Regions from separate parts of the Homo sapiens genome. Here region 2 is linked to region 1. A link means that fine-mapping ties the variant in region 1 to the expression of a gene that starts in the linked region. Tissue or cell type: whole blood. Region 1 holds a variant in brackets; the other region holds the start of a gene. All regions are shown on one strand. Distances are between the middles of the regions.

Region 1 (6,057 bases):
GTGGTGGACATACTAATTACCTGATTTGATCACTACACATTGTATACATTTATCAAAATATCACTCTGTAGTCCCTAAATATGTACAATTATTACATGTCAACGAAAAAGAATGAAAACACAATGACACACACTTCACACCCACTGGAATGGCTAGAATCAGAAAGACAGATAATGACAAGTGTTGGCAAGGAGTGAGAAATCAAAACCCTAATACACTACTGGTGCGAATGTTAAAAAGATGCACACTGATGCTTTGGAAAACAGTCTGACCATTTCTTAAAATGTTAAACAGAGCTACCATATGACCCAGCCATTTCACTCCTAGGCACATACGCAAGAGAAATGAAAACATGATGTCCACACAAAAACTTGTAGGTGAATGTTCACAGCAGCATTACACATAATGGCCAAAAGGTGGAAACAATCCAAACGTCCACTAACTAATGGAAAATAAATCGTGGTAATACCCATAAAAGATTAACCAGCAATAAAAAAAAGTACTGACACATGCTATTAAATACAACACAGATGAACATGAATGTTAAGTAAAAGAAGCCAGTTGAAAAAGACCACATGCTGTATGATTTCACTCACATGAATAATCCAGAATAGTCAAATATACAGTCAGTCAATTCATAGTTGCTTAGGGCTTAGAATGGGGAGTGGGGATGGGGAAGTCAGGTGAGCCTGCTGAATAAGTACAGGGTTTCCTTTTGGAGTGATGAAAATGTTCAATTGTTCCAATATGGCTCTCACAAACTGAATGCAGCATATTAAACATGAACAAAAGAATACAAGAATAACTTATTGGAGTCTGTCTGAAATAGAAAATTAAACCAACTAATGAAGGTGAAGAAGATTACAGCATATTTTATGATGATGGTTGTACAACTTTGTGAATGTACTAATGTACTAATTACTTTTAGGTTTTCTTTCTTTTTTTTTTTTTTTGAGATGGAGTCTAGCTCTCTCGCCCAGGCTGGAGTGCAGTGGCGCAATCTCGGCTCACTGCAAGCTCCACCTCCCGGGTTCACACCATCCTCCTGCCTCAGCCTCCCAAGTAGCTGGGACTACAGGCTCCCGCCACCACGCCCGGCTAATTTTTTGTATTTTTAGTGGAGACGGGGTTTCACCGTGTTAGCCAGGACGGTCTTGATCTCCTGACCTCGTGATCCACCCGCCTCGGCCTCCCAAAGTGCTGGGATTACAGGCGTGAGGCACCGCTACGTTTTAAATGGTGAACTCTACGGTAGGTGAACTATGTGTCAGGAAGCTGTTTTATTTTTTTAAAGGACTGAAGACTTTTGTTTTGTGTTTTGTTTTGTTTTCATTTTATCCCGTTTTTAAAACAGTGCCTAGCAATATTATGAATTCAATCGATTTTGGCTAAATGCTAGAACAAAAATTAAAACTTGAGTAAACCATATAAAACTTTGCCATATCTAAAGTTATTAAATTACCGTAGACTGGCATGGTGGGAGCATAATATGAGTGTACCTGCAGGTGTGTTTTCCATGAAAGTAGCAAAGACTGAAAAACTCAGCAGAATCAAGACCCTGTAGGCCCTTGAAGTTAGGCTAAGAAATGTGTATTATCCTGAAAGCAACGGGAAGGCCAGGAAGATTCTGAGGACAGAAATAACACAATCTGATATGCGTTTTAAACGTGCAGGTGTAAGCGGAGAGTTGCTACTTCTATCCAAACGTGAGCCACCTCAGAAATAAAGCAATAGCCCTCCGGGGAGAATGGGGAGGAATCAGGGGAAGACCGGAGAAACAGGTTATCAAATTATCAGAATCTCCATAGATTTTTTTAAATTACACAGCATCCACCCCCAAACACACATACAGACTGATAGGCACTGATATATACATAAATACATCCAATGTCCCCTACACAGAAAATCACTTTTGCAGTCAGCCCCTGTTGGGAGGGTTTTTCTGTTATTCAAGTGTGGTGGGGACAAAAAGTATTATAACCACTAAACCAGGTAATTCTTTCCTACAATAATTTGGGCAGCGTACTCCTCAGGGTGTTGAAATTTAGCACTACCAACAAAAGTGCCCAGTCCCAACTCTTCGAGAGGACCCTAACTCTTTACAGTGTGCTGTTGGGGATGGTCAGCAAAAACTGCAGGACAAGGTCAAGGTTAGCTCGACACAGCCTCCTAACTCCGAGCGGACGGAGCCACTGAAGGTTACCAGGTGCCAAAGAAGCTGCGCAGGGAGGCCGCGACCCGGCGCCGGCGCGAACCTCCGCGATGTGACCCGTGAGGGAACTCTCCAAGAAGCAGCGCACCCCGCGCGCAAAGGCGGCCCCCCGAATTGCAGGAACAAACGCTTCTTGCTGGGGGGAAGACGGAGACTCTTATACCGCGGGAGACTAACCTGTGAGCAACAGAAGCACCACGCTACAAAGAGCATGACGAGTTCTTCCAGGCTTGGGAAAGCACGGGTAAATGCCCGCGGTCCTGCGCGCCAGCGGGGAGCAGTAGAGACTTCCGGCGTCGGCTGCTCGCAGGGCTAGAGCGTCGAACCGGGACAACCGGAGGCTTCAGCTCACCTCGGATTGTAAATGCTAACACGGGTCCTCCGGCCGGCTGATCCAGAACTTAGGTCGCCGGGACGTGTGGCTTCTGCTTCTCAGACGCTCGGACTCGCGCCGGGAAGGGTTTCGCCTCCCCTGGTCCCCGCTTTTTTTTTTTTTTTCTGCGTCCGGTTATTGCAAATGCATTCAGTCCAGTAGCACTAGCCCAGGAAATATAAGCCACCGGCTCACGTTGCTCCTCACAGGTATGCGG[C/G]GCTTCCGCTGGCCTCCAAGGACACGAAGCCCCGGGCCGTCTGGCCCCCCACTCTAGCACTGAAATTCCTGCCGCCCCGTTCAGCTGACAAATTTGGCAGCACTAAATTTTATTTTATTCGACAAATTAAGTACCCAGTTAACACCAGGGAGTAACGGGGTAAGAAAATTTCAGAAGGCTGGTGGATAATAATAGCATTTACCTCATAAATTTGTTATGAGGATGTGAAGCACTTAGAGTAGTGTCTGGCAGTTTGTAGGCGCTCAGTAACTGTTAGCTGTTATTATTTTTATATTGATTATTCCATAGTCACCACTATTATCACCTTAATGTCAAGCTTGAAATCCAGTATCTTTCCTCTGCGAAGCCATCACTCCAAGACTAATTAACTTTAGACTGGGGCATTCTTCTTTAAACTCTTGCTCACACATCCCTATCAGAAAAAATATATATATATTTACATGTGTCATGTATGGCATTAATATATTATGCATGCTATAAAACTCACAAGACATCAAACTTTTGATGAGGTAAAAACAATTTTTAAACTTTTTTAAAAACTTCTAACAGAAGTTCTTTTCTTCCTCCACAACAATTAGGTTGCCAAACATACATTCTATCACTCTGGAATCCACTAGCTAAATGAGCACATTATCAAAGCAACCTACCGCTGAATTCTGACTTCCCAGAATGTTTCTTTTCCAAAGAATTAATAGAAACTAATCAGATTGTGAAGTGCTCGGCCATAAGGACTATTTAAATGGTTCTTAGAGAAAAAGAAGAAATAAAATAGGCATCCACTGAGTAATATTCATTGATGCAACATTGATTATTGACTTATTACATTTTCAAAGAGATTGAGGTTATAATACCTTACACCAAGCTTAATATTTCAAAGAATAAATCAACTAATAAAAAGCTTATGAGGTTTGGTATATGTGCATTTCATACAACGTTCATGAAAATGAACCCGAGATCAATTAGCTCCCGTTCTGTACCAGAAAGAGAAATATGTTTACTTTGTAAGTAATAAAACATTAAATAGGCTTTTCTGACCATTTGCTTGAAAACTCAGAACTTAACATTTCTATCACTGGACTTAAATCTGCTAAAGTTTTCGTCTAAATTTTACATTAAAAACAAAACTCTATAGTGAATAATGTTACCTATCCAATATTCATTTTCCTCTAACTCCTTTGTACCAAAATCCTTATTTTATTCAGATAGCTGCCCTGTTCCCAGAATCAAAATGATACTGATTAAACCAGTCATCACACAGAATTTTTTTGTCGTCTAAATTTTACATTAAAAACAAAACTCTATAGTGAATAATGTTACCTATCCAATATTCATTTTCCTCTAACTCCTTTGTACCAAAATCCTTATTTTATTCAGATAGCTGCCCTGTTCCCAGAATCAAAATGATACTGATTAAACCAGTCTTCACACAGAATTTTTTTGGAAATAGTTGCTAATCAAGGAACGAGTATATGACCCAGGTTGGCGCAATCTGACTGAAGGAAAGGACCTCTATTTCATGCTCAGGAGAAAGTTTCTGATATACTGTCCTCTTGACGTCGAAACATCTATCCCACACTGTCATTAGTAGCCATCTTGCCCATCACAAGGAATAAAACTGATGGACCAATGCTGAGGACAACTGAACAAGTTATAAAACAATGTCCTTGGTGACATCATTCCAAACCTGGAGCTCACCCTGTATCTGAATGCCTTGTAGGAATGTCTAATAAGTTTCCTTATTGTTTTTGTTTTCTGTTTTTCTGAGACTGAGTCTCACTCTGTCGCCCAGGCAGGAATGCAGTGGCATGATCTCAGCTCACTGCAACCTCTGCCTCCCGGGTTCAAGCAATTCTCCTGCTTCAGCCTCCCAAGTAGCTGTAACTACAGGCATGCACTGCCACGCCTGGCTAATTTTTGTATTTTTAGTAGAGAAGGGGTTTCACCATGTTGGCCAGGCTTCTCTTGAACTCCTGACCTCAGTGATCCACCCACCTTGGCCTCCCAGAGTGCTGGGATCCTTACTGTTTTCTGATAGAGATGCCATAAAGATTAAATGGGTTAAAATAGTGCTGGTCATATTGTAAGTATTTTAAGTGCTTAATAAATTTTAGTTATTATTAACTCACCTTAAGTCAGGGATTCTGTTTCTTATAGCCAAAATTACCCATCAAAATACACATTCTACCTCTCTTTTTCTATATATTTAAAGAAAGGGTCTGTTTTGATACTTTTAAACTAAGGAGCCAGGGAAGGGGTAGGAGGTGAAGAGAGGAGGGGCTGACTATAATGCTGTATGAGGGCTACTGTTAAGTGGTTAAATGGCTGCTTTGAGATTCACTCAAGAGCAGCAGGATCCTATAACTATCAAATCTGAATGAGGTTACTACACATCGTAGTTGTATGTATACATGAAAGTATCATTTCCTGCATATTAATATTGTGATCCACTGCCTTACTAAGTTGCTTTATTGTTTGGAGTTCATTCTGGTAGAATTTCTAAGATTGCAATCTTATCATTGAAATAGTTTTACCTACTTCTTTCCAAGTTTTATACCTCTACTTTCTCATATCTAATTGTTTTGGCTAGTATCTCCAGTAAAATATTTAATAATAATAATGACAGTAGACTTTTATGTCTTATTCCTATCTTTAATGAGATATCTTTAGAATTTTCCCATTAAGCATGATGCTGGTTTTAAGGACTGAAGTAGACATCTTTTATCATGTTAAGGAACTATCCACCTATTGAGAGAAAGAAGAAAATTTTGGCATAAGAGCTTTGAGAAAACAAAGCATTGAGCGTGCCATAATGTCCTGTCATAAAAATAAGTAAAAGTTAGACAGTATTTACCTCAAAGACACTGAGAAAATTAACATTAGCTAGGTTGGTATGAATGTCCTTTCTTGCTTATCTTACTACCAGCATGAAATTCAGTCCTGCCTAGTTTGTTTACAAGAAATTCACCTGTGATATCCTGATTTTTAACCCTGAAAAAGTTATTTATCTCTTACAATATGTCCTGTTTAATGTAAAGTTAATGCTTGCTCTACATGTTTTTTGTTTTTTGCTTTTGTGTTTGCTTTTACATGTACTCCAAGCACATGCTCTACATGTTTGTTATAGGAAATAATGTGCACCTCCTATAATTTTGTTATAGGAAATTGTAGCTGTTCAAATATGCTGATTGCAAAAAATAAAGGACATTTTATAATAATTGGGTTAGATCATCAAGA
Region 2 (6,057 bases), 370 kb after region 1:
ATATGTTTTTCAAGTTGTTGAAAACCAAGGAAATTGTTCTGCCAGTTGTGAGGGTGGCTAGACACTGTCTGGGAGACCTCAGGTCCCATGGCTCTGGGAGCCATCCCATCTTGTGGGCCCAAACAGGCTAACCCCACTGGTAATATCCAGGCACTTGGGCGGCAGAGAAGGGGGAGTTTCTAGGAGCCTCCCCCAAGAGGGAAGAACAAAAAGGAAGGAGCCTAGCCTGGTCCTTTCCCCTTTGGTCCCAGGAGGCAGATCCAGGACTCAAGGGGAGATATGGAGGGGCTGGCATCTGTGATCCCAGTAGCCTGCTGGCCAGATCCCAGGCCTCCCAGACCTTCTATTTATCCCCCTCCCCCAGATACACATGCTGGTGCTGGACAGCTGGGCTGTGGCGGAAGTTTACATACAAAGGGTTTGCTGGGCCATCTCGGTACACACAGCTTCACTTCCTTCTGAGGCACAACCCGTGTCTGAGCTGCTGCCATGGGGGTCCTGGGGGCCACAGAGGCCATGGGGCAGGTTGGGAGGGTCTGCTCCCAGCCTCCCAGACCCTGCCACTCCTGCCTGTCCCCAGGCCCTGATGACCTCTTATCCTTCTGTGCCCTGCAGATCCCCACAGTCAGAACTCAGGCACACTGGGCCTGCTGGCAGGTGAGTTTCCACCTCTGACCAGGTTGAGGCACCAGGCAGCTCTGGAGGCTCAGGAGCTATAGCTTGGGTCCCAGTGGGAGGAGGCTGGCCTGTCCCCCTCCTCAGCTGGCACTAACAGGCCCCTGACCCAACCTCAACTTCTCTCTTGGGGTCTCAGCCCTCATGGCAGGGTTGATGGCCTCAGAGCTACATAGGACCTACTCACTGGGCCATGCTCCCTGTCTCCCTGTTCCCTGCAGGTCAGTTTCGCCAGCTTCCACCCTTGGACAGTTCTGGCTCTCTCAACAACTCTCCTTCCCATTCCAGCAGCAGCAAGGGACAGGGGGCACCCTCCCCAGCGCAGGCCCCACCCTCCCCAGCCCAGTCCTGCCGCAGTGGCTGTCCCTTGGGGTAGGGAAATGCCAAAGCAGTCCCTGCCACATCCATGTGGGAAGCTGAAAGTGGATCACCAGAGTGTCTACCAGCCCCCCACTGTAGCCCAGGAGAACACTTGGATGCAGGTGCAGACCCTGCTAAGTGGCAGGGGTAAGGGACCCTGAAAGCCACTAGGTGCTCTTGGCTACAAGCCTCCCATCCCCCTGACTGGCTTCACTCTGGCAGCAGAGGGGAGAAGTCCCCTCACCGGCCCCGTGGCAGAGCCTGGGCACAGGGCTAAAGGACTTTTTGGTGCAGGTCTTCAAGTGGAGTGGGAGTCCCAGCCCCACCACCCAAAGGGAGGCACATCAGCCTGGCATGGAGGGCAGCTGCCTCCCATCCACCTGCCCACACCCTTGGTGTCAGAGGGCCCCCAACATCATGGCCCTCCTTGTGGCCCAGCTCTCCATGAGAGCTTTTGCACATGTTTTTGTTGGTGACTCGCTGTGACTGAAGAAAAGCCTCCTTCTGTTCCTTTTTTGTTTTCTTATGGCTTCTATTTTCCCTGGCAGAGGATGTTGGACCCAAATCCAATCCATGTGTGAGTTGTTCCCAGGGAAGTGACGTGCCACGCTGCTTCACCCCAGCCTTGGGCCGCCGGGCTTGACATGCTCAACTGGGGCAACGGAGCAAATTCCCAGAACAAGTTTTGAGAAAGATGATTCAGAGCTTTGCAGAGGATGAGGAAAGGGGAGAGCTTGCGGATCCTTGCTGCCACCAGGACTGGCCTGGGGGCACGTGGCAGGCAGAGGCAGGCTCAGGTGCACAGGGAGCCTGGGTGTTGGGGCTCAGGGTCTGCTCTGAGCGCCCCAGTGGGCACAGCTCAGGTTGATCTCTGAGGGCAAATGATGAGAGCTAAAAGGCAGCAGTGTGAGTGCCAAGAATGTGTGCTAGGCACAGCACATGCATGATCCTGTATGAACGACAAGGAGAACAGGGACACAGGTGGACGGCACTGAGGCTACCTGCCGAGATGTGGTGCCTGGGAGGTAGAGCCAGAACCTGACACAGTCCCACTGCTTTTTCAAGGAGATGCAGTGAGAAAGCAAAGGCAGGGTCTTGGCAGGACCAGGTGTGAGAGGAGGCAAGGCCTCCTTGTGGTCCTGCTCCCAGGGGGTGGCATGTATCCCAGGCCCAGCAGCCTCCACTGTGGCCTCCCCGGCTGCTGCCTGCTCCAACTCACTCGGGGCTGCTCTGGGGACCCAGGTGCTTCCTGACCCACTTTTCCTCTTTCCTTTTGACCCCAGGTCCAAACTCTGCCCTGTCAATCATCCCAGGGGCTCCTAGGCTTCCCTACCTGACTACTTCACTGGGGCCAAACCCCGCAGACAATCGTGGCTTAGGGCTGTCTGCCTCTGCACTTGGCCCATGGACTACCTGTGAGCTTTCTCTTGTGTCCTCATTCCTTTAAGGGGGAATGTCCTCGGAGCTCTGTCCTTAGCTCCCCATTCCTCCAGTATGAGACAGGGACTAGGCTTGAGTCACGGGGGACTGTGCTGTGTCACGCCCTGCCATACTAATGGGACCACTCTGCCTGTTGATGGCCGTTGTAGGGCAGCCAACATTTGCCCTGGAGAAGCCTTATGGCAAACACCAGGCACCAAGGTGCACATCCCTGATGGATCCTGGGATCAGTTGACACTCAATCCACCTGCCTTCTGGGTCCTCTGGGCCCTCTGGGTCCATGTGGCAGCTGGAGGTATGGTAGACACTTTTTAAAAAATGAGTTCTGGTAAGAAGAAGGTGATAAATGGCTATTTGTCCACGTTGGGACCCGGAGGGGAGGGATGGCATGCCCTTACATGGGACTCCTACCCCCAGCGGGGCAGCTGGCCACTCTGAGGGCAGTTTTGCACCTGCCTCCTGGCTGGAAAGTGAGTTCCCACTGTGCTGTCCCTCCCTGGGGCCCAGCACGGGGCCCGGCCCCACACCGACCTGAAGAGGTTGGTAGGATGACTGAATGAATTGACGCTGGGATGCAGCAGGGCCCATGGGCAGAGGCTCCAGAGCCTGGGAAGGATGGGGTGGCCTTTCTGTGGCCCTCCGAATTGAGAGAGGTCTCAGAGGCCTGACACCACGGCTTTCCGTCCAGGGTTCCTGGTCACCCGCGGAGGGCTCAGAGCCCCGGTGGACTCGGGGTCCCGCCTTAAGGGGGGTGCCTAGGGCAGAAGGAGGAGGGATGTCGGCCCCCTCAGACCCGCACCCCAGGCCCTCCCCACCACCTTTCCTTCCCTCAGGCCCTCTGTCTTCCCAGTCGCCCCGCCCCCTGCCCCTCTGTCCTAGGCGCAAGTCTCCGGGCTTGGGACGCTCGCCGCCAGCGCCCGCCCGCCTGCCCCGCCCCTAGCCCCCCGCCCCCCGCCCCCCGCCCCCCCGCAGCCCCTCCGTCCACTCTCGGCTCCTCCTTCTCTTCCTCCTCCTCCTCCCCGGGGGTGGGGAGCCGGCTCCGGAAGCCCCGGCGCCCCCGCCCCGGGCCCCGCCAGCGCTTTGGAGACGGCTATCCGCGCGGGAGTGCGCCACGCGGGGCCGGAGCGCCTATTAGCCGCCAGGACCTCGGAGCGCCCCGACCACCCCTGAGCCCCTCTGGCTTCGGAGCCCCCCAGCACCCCTTCCCGGGTCCCCTCGCCCACCCTAATCCACTCTCCCTCCCTTTCCCGGATTCCCTCGCTCACCCCATCCTCTCTCCCGCCCCTTCCTGGATTCCCTCACCCGTCTCGATCCCCTCTCCGCCCTTTCCCAGAGACCCAGAGCCCCTGACCCCCCGCGCCCTCCCCGGAGCCCCCCGCGCGTGCCGCGGCCATGGCGGCCGTGCGCGGGGCGCCCCTGCTCAGCTGCCTCCTGGCGTTGCTGGCCCTGTGCCCTGGAGGGCGCCCGCAGACGGTGCTGACCGACGACGAGATCGAGGAGTTCCTCGAGGGCTTCCTGTCAGAGCTAGAACCTGAGCCCCGGGAGGACGACGTGGAGGCCCCGCCGCCTCCCGAGCCCACCCCGCGGGTCCGAAAAGCCCAGGCGGGGGGCAAGCCAGGGAAGCGGCCAGGGACGGCCGCAGAAGGTAAGAGCCCAGGGCAGGGCGGGGGTGTGGGGGGCTGGCATCTCAGGTGGGAACAGGGGGATTCGGTAGGGTCTGGCCACTCCCCAGTCTGCTAGGGGAGGAATGGCTGGCTTACTAATGCGCACGCGAGCCCAGATGCCTGGAGGGACCCTGTGCTAGGCCGAGGTCAGCGCTGGCGTGGAGGCACATCCAGCACCCGGGCGGCAGGGCCGCTTTTGGGGGCCGGTGGCTCTAGGGTTGGTGCTGTGGTTGTACGGGTCGCTTATCCCCATTCCTCCAGTACGCGACAGGTACTAGGCTTGAGCCACAGGGGACTGTGCTGTGTCACCCCCTGCCATACTAATGGGACCACTCTCCCTGTTGGTGGCACAGCTTCACGTCGTCCCTCCCTCCTGCCTTTGCCCTCCTACTCCAGGAGGTCTCACGTAGGTGAGAGAGTTTCAGGTGGTGGTGAGCACAGGGCTTCAGGTGGTGGTGAGCAATGGGTGGTCCTACATTAGTACAGGAAATTAGATGAGGTGATGCATCACTGAAGCATTTAACCCACGGCCTCTTGCATAATCAGTTGTCAGTAAATCTTAGCTGTTTTCATCGTGGCCCTCTGGAAGGTGGCAGAGGGTCTTGTGATCCCTGTCTCCCAGGAGATTCCAAGGCACCATCCAACATTCCTGATGTCAGCAGCCCCTCCCCTGCCACCCCAGCTCTAGATCTTTCCTGGCTGCTTCCCACACCCTGGGCTGCCTGTGCCCCTCCTGCCTCTGGCTCTCCTTCCAGGCTTGCTCTCCTGGCTCTGGGGCACCGCTCTAGCAGCCCTGCGTCCCCTGGCTGTCTGCATTTGGTAGCTTTCCTGTGTTTCTGCCAAACTTCCCTCATGCTCCCCACCTCTCATCAGGTTCTCAACAGCACTTGCAGCTCCTGCTTAGGGTCCTGGGAGGATTCCCATGGGGAATCCTCACAACCAGTCCCTGCTCCCTCTCCCAGACTCTGAAATGAGTGTGCAGCCACAAGCTCCCTACCTGTCTTTTCTGTCCTCTGTGTGATCCCTGAACCCCCCAGGACTCCCTATCCTTCCAATCAATTCCAAACCCCTTACTTCTCGAAAGGAGACCACTTCCTCTTCTTTGGGCTTCAATACTCAACCAAGTGTCCCTTTTCTTTGAAGCTTTTCTTGCCCCGTAGGAGACCAGGGGAAGGTCTTGGGCCCATGTCCCTTCCTTTGTATGGCAGTTGGCAGGGATGACCAGATGCTCCTCCAGGCCTGGATGGCTCAGTCACCTCTCTGCCCCTTCTGTGCCCAGAACAGAATAGTGGAGGAGTGGATAGTAAGGAACCCCTATTGAGGTTTTGGCAGGTGGGGGGATGAGGGCCTCCCCCTGGGAACTGGGAACCCTACGCTCAGTCTTTAGAGAGGTTGAGATTGGTGGTCACAGCCCCAGACTTGCAGACAGAAAATCTGGGTCCGGATCCCAGTTTGCCACTTGGGCAAATGACTTAACCTCTCAGTTTGCTGATCCGCACTGGGAACTGACAAGAGTCCCTGTGCCCAGGTTCTGGGCATCTAGAGAGGGGCCTCATGGGGGCACAGAGCTGGCTCTGTTCATTTGACACGAGTCTGCATCTTGGACAGTGCCTCCGGAAAAGACCAAAGACAAAGGGAAGAAAGGCAAGAAAGACAAAGGCCCCAAGGTGCCCAAGGAGTCCTTGGAGGGGTCCCCCAGGCCGCCCAAGAAGGGGAAGGAGAAGCCACCCAAGGCCACCAAGAAGCCCAAGGAGAAGCCACCTAAGGCCACCAAGAAGCCCAAGGAGAAGCCACCCAAGGCCACCAAGAAGCCCAAAGAGAAGCCACCCAAGGCCACCAAGAAGCCCCCGTCAGGGAAGAGGCCCCCCATTCTGGCTCCCTCAGAAACCCTGGAGTGGCCACTGCCCCCACCCCCCAG

The links. PIP is the estimated chance that this variant, and not a neighbour inherited with it, causes the effect.
Region 2: AEBP1 starts here. The variant in region 1 is fine-mapped to the expression of AEBP1 in whole blood (TOPMed, PIP above 0.99).

Annotation. Positions count from the first base shown.
Region 1 is chr7:43,727,040-43,733,096 of GRCh38, forward strand. It overlaps COA1 (cytochrome c oxidase assembly factor 1), which reads right to left and starts at 2,484. Exons shown (of 6, transcript NM_018224.4): 1 at 2,390-2,484. RefSeq lists enhancers at 1,770-2,499, 2,500-3,228, 2,595-2,794. The variant C/G (reference allele first, on the strand shown) is at 2,803.
Region 2 is chr7:44,100,799-44,106,855 of GRCh38, forward strand. It overlaps AEBP1 (AE binding protein 1), which reads left to right and starts at 3,547. Exons shown (of 21, transcript NM_001129.5): 1 at 3,547-4,120; 2 at 5,748-6,057. The coding sequence starts at 3,868. RefSeq lists enhancers at 1-501, 502-1,001.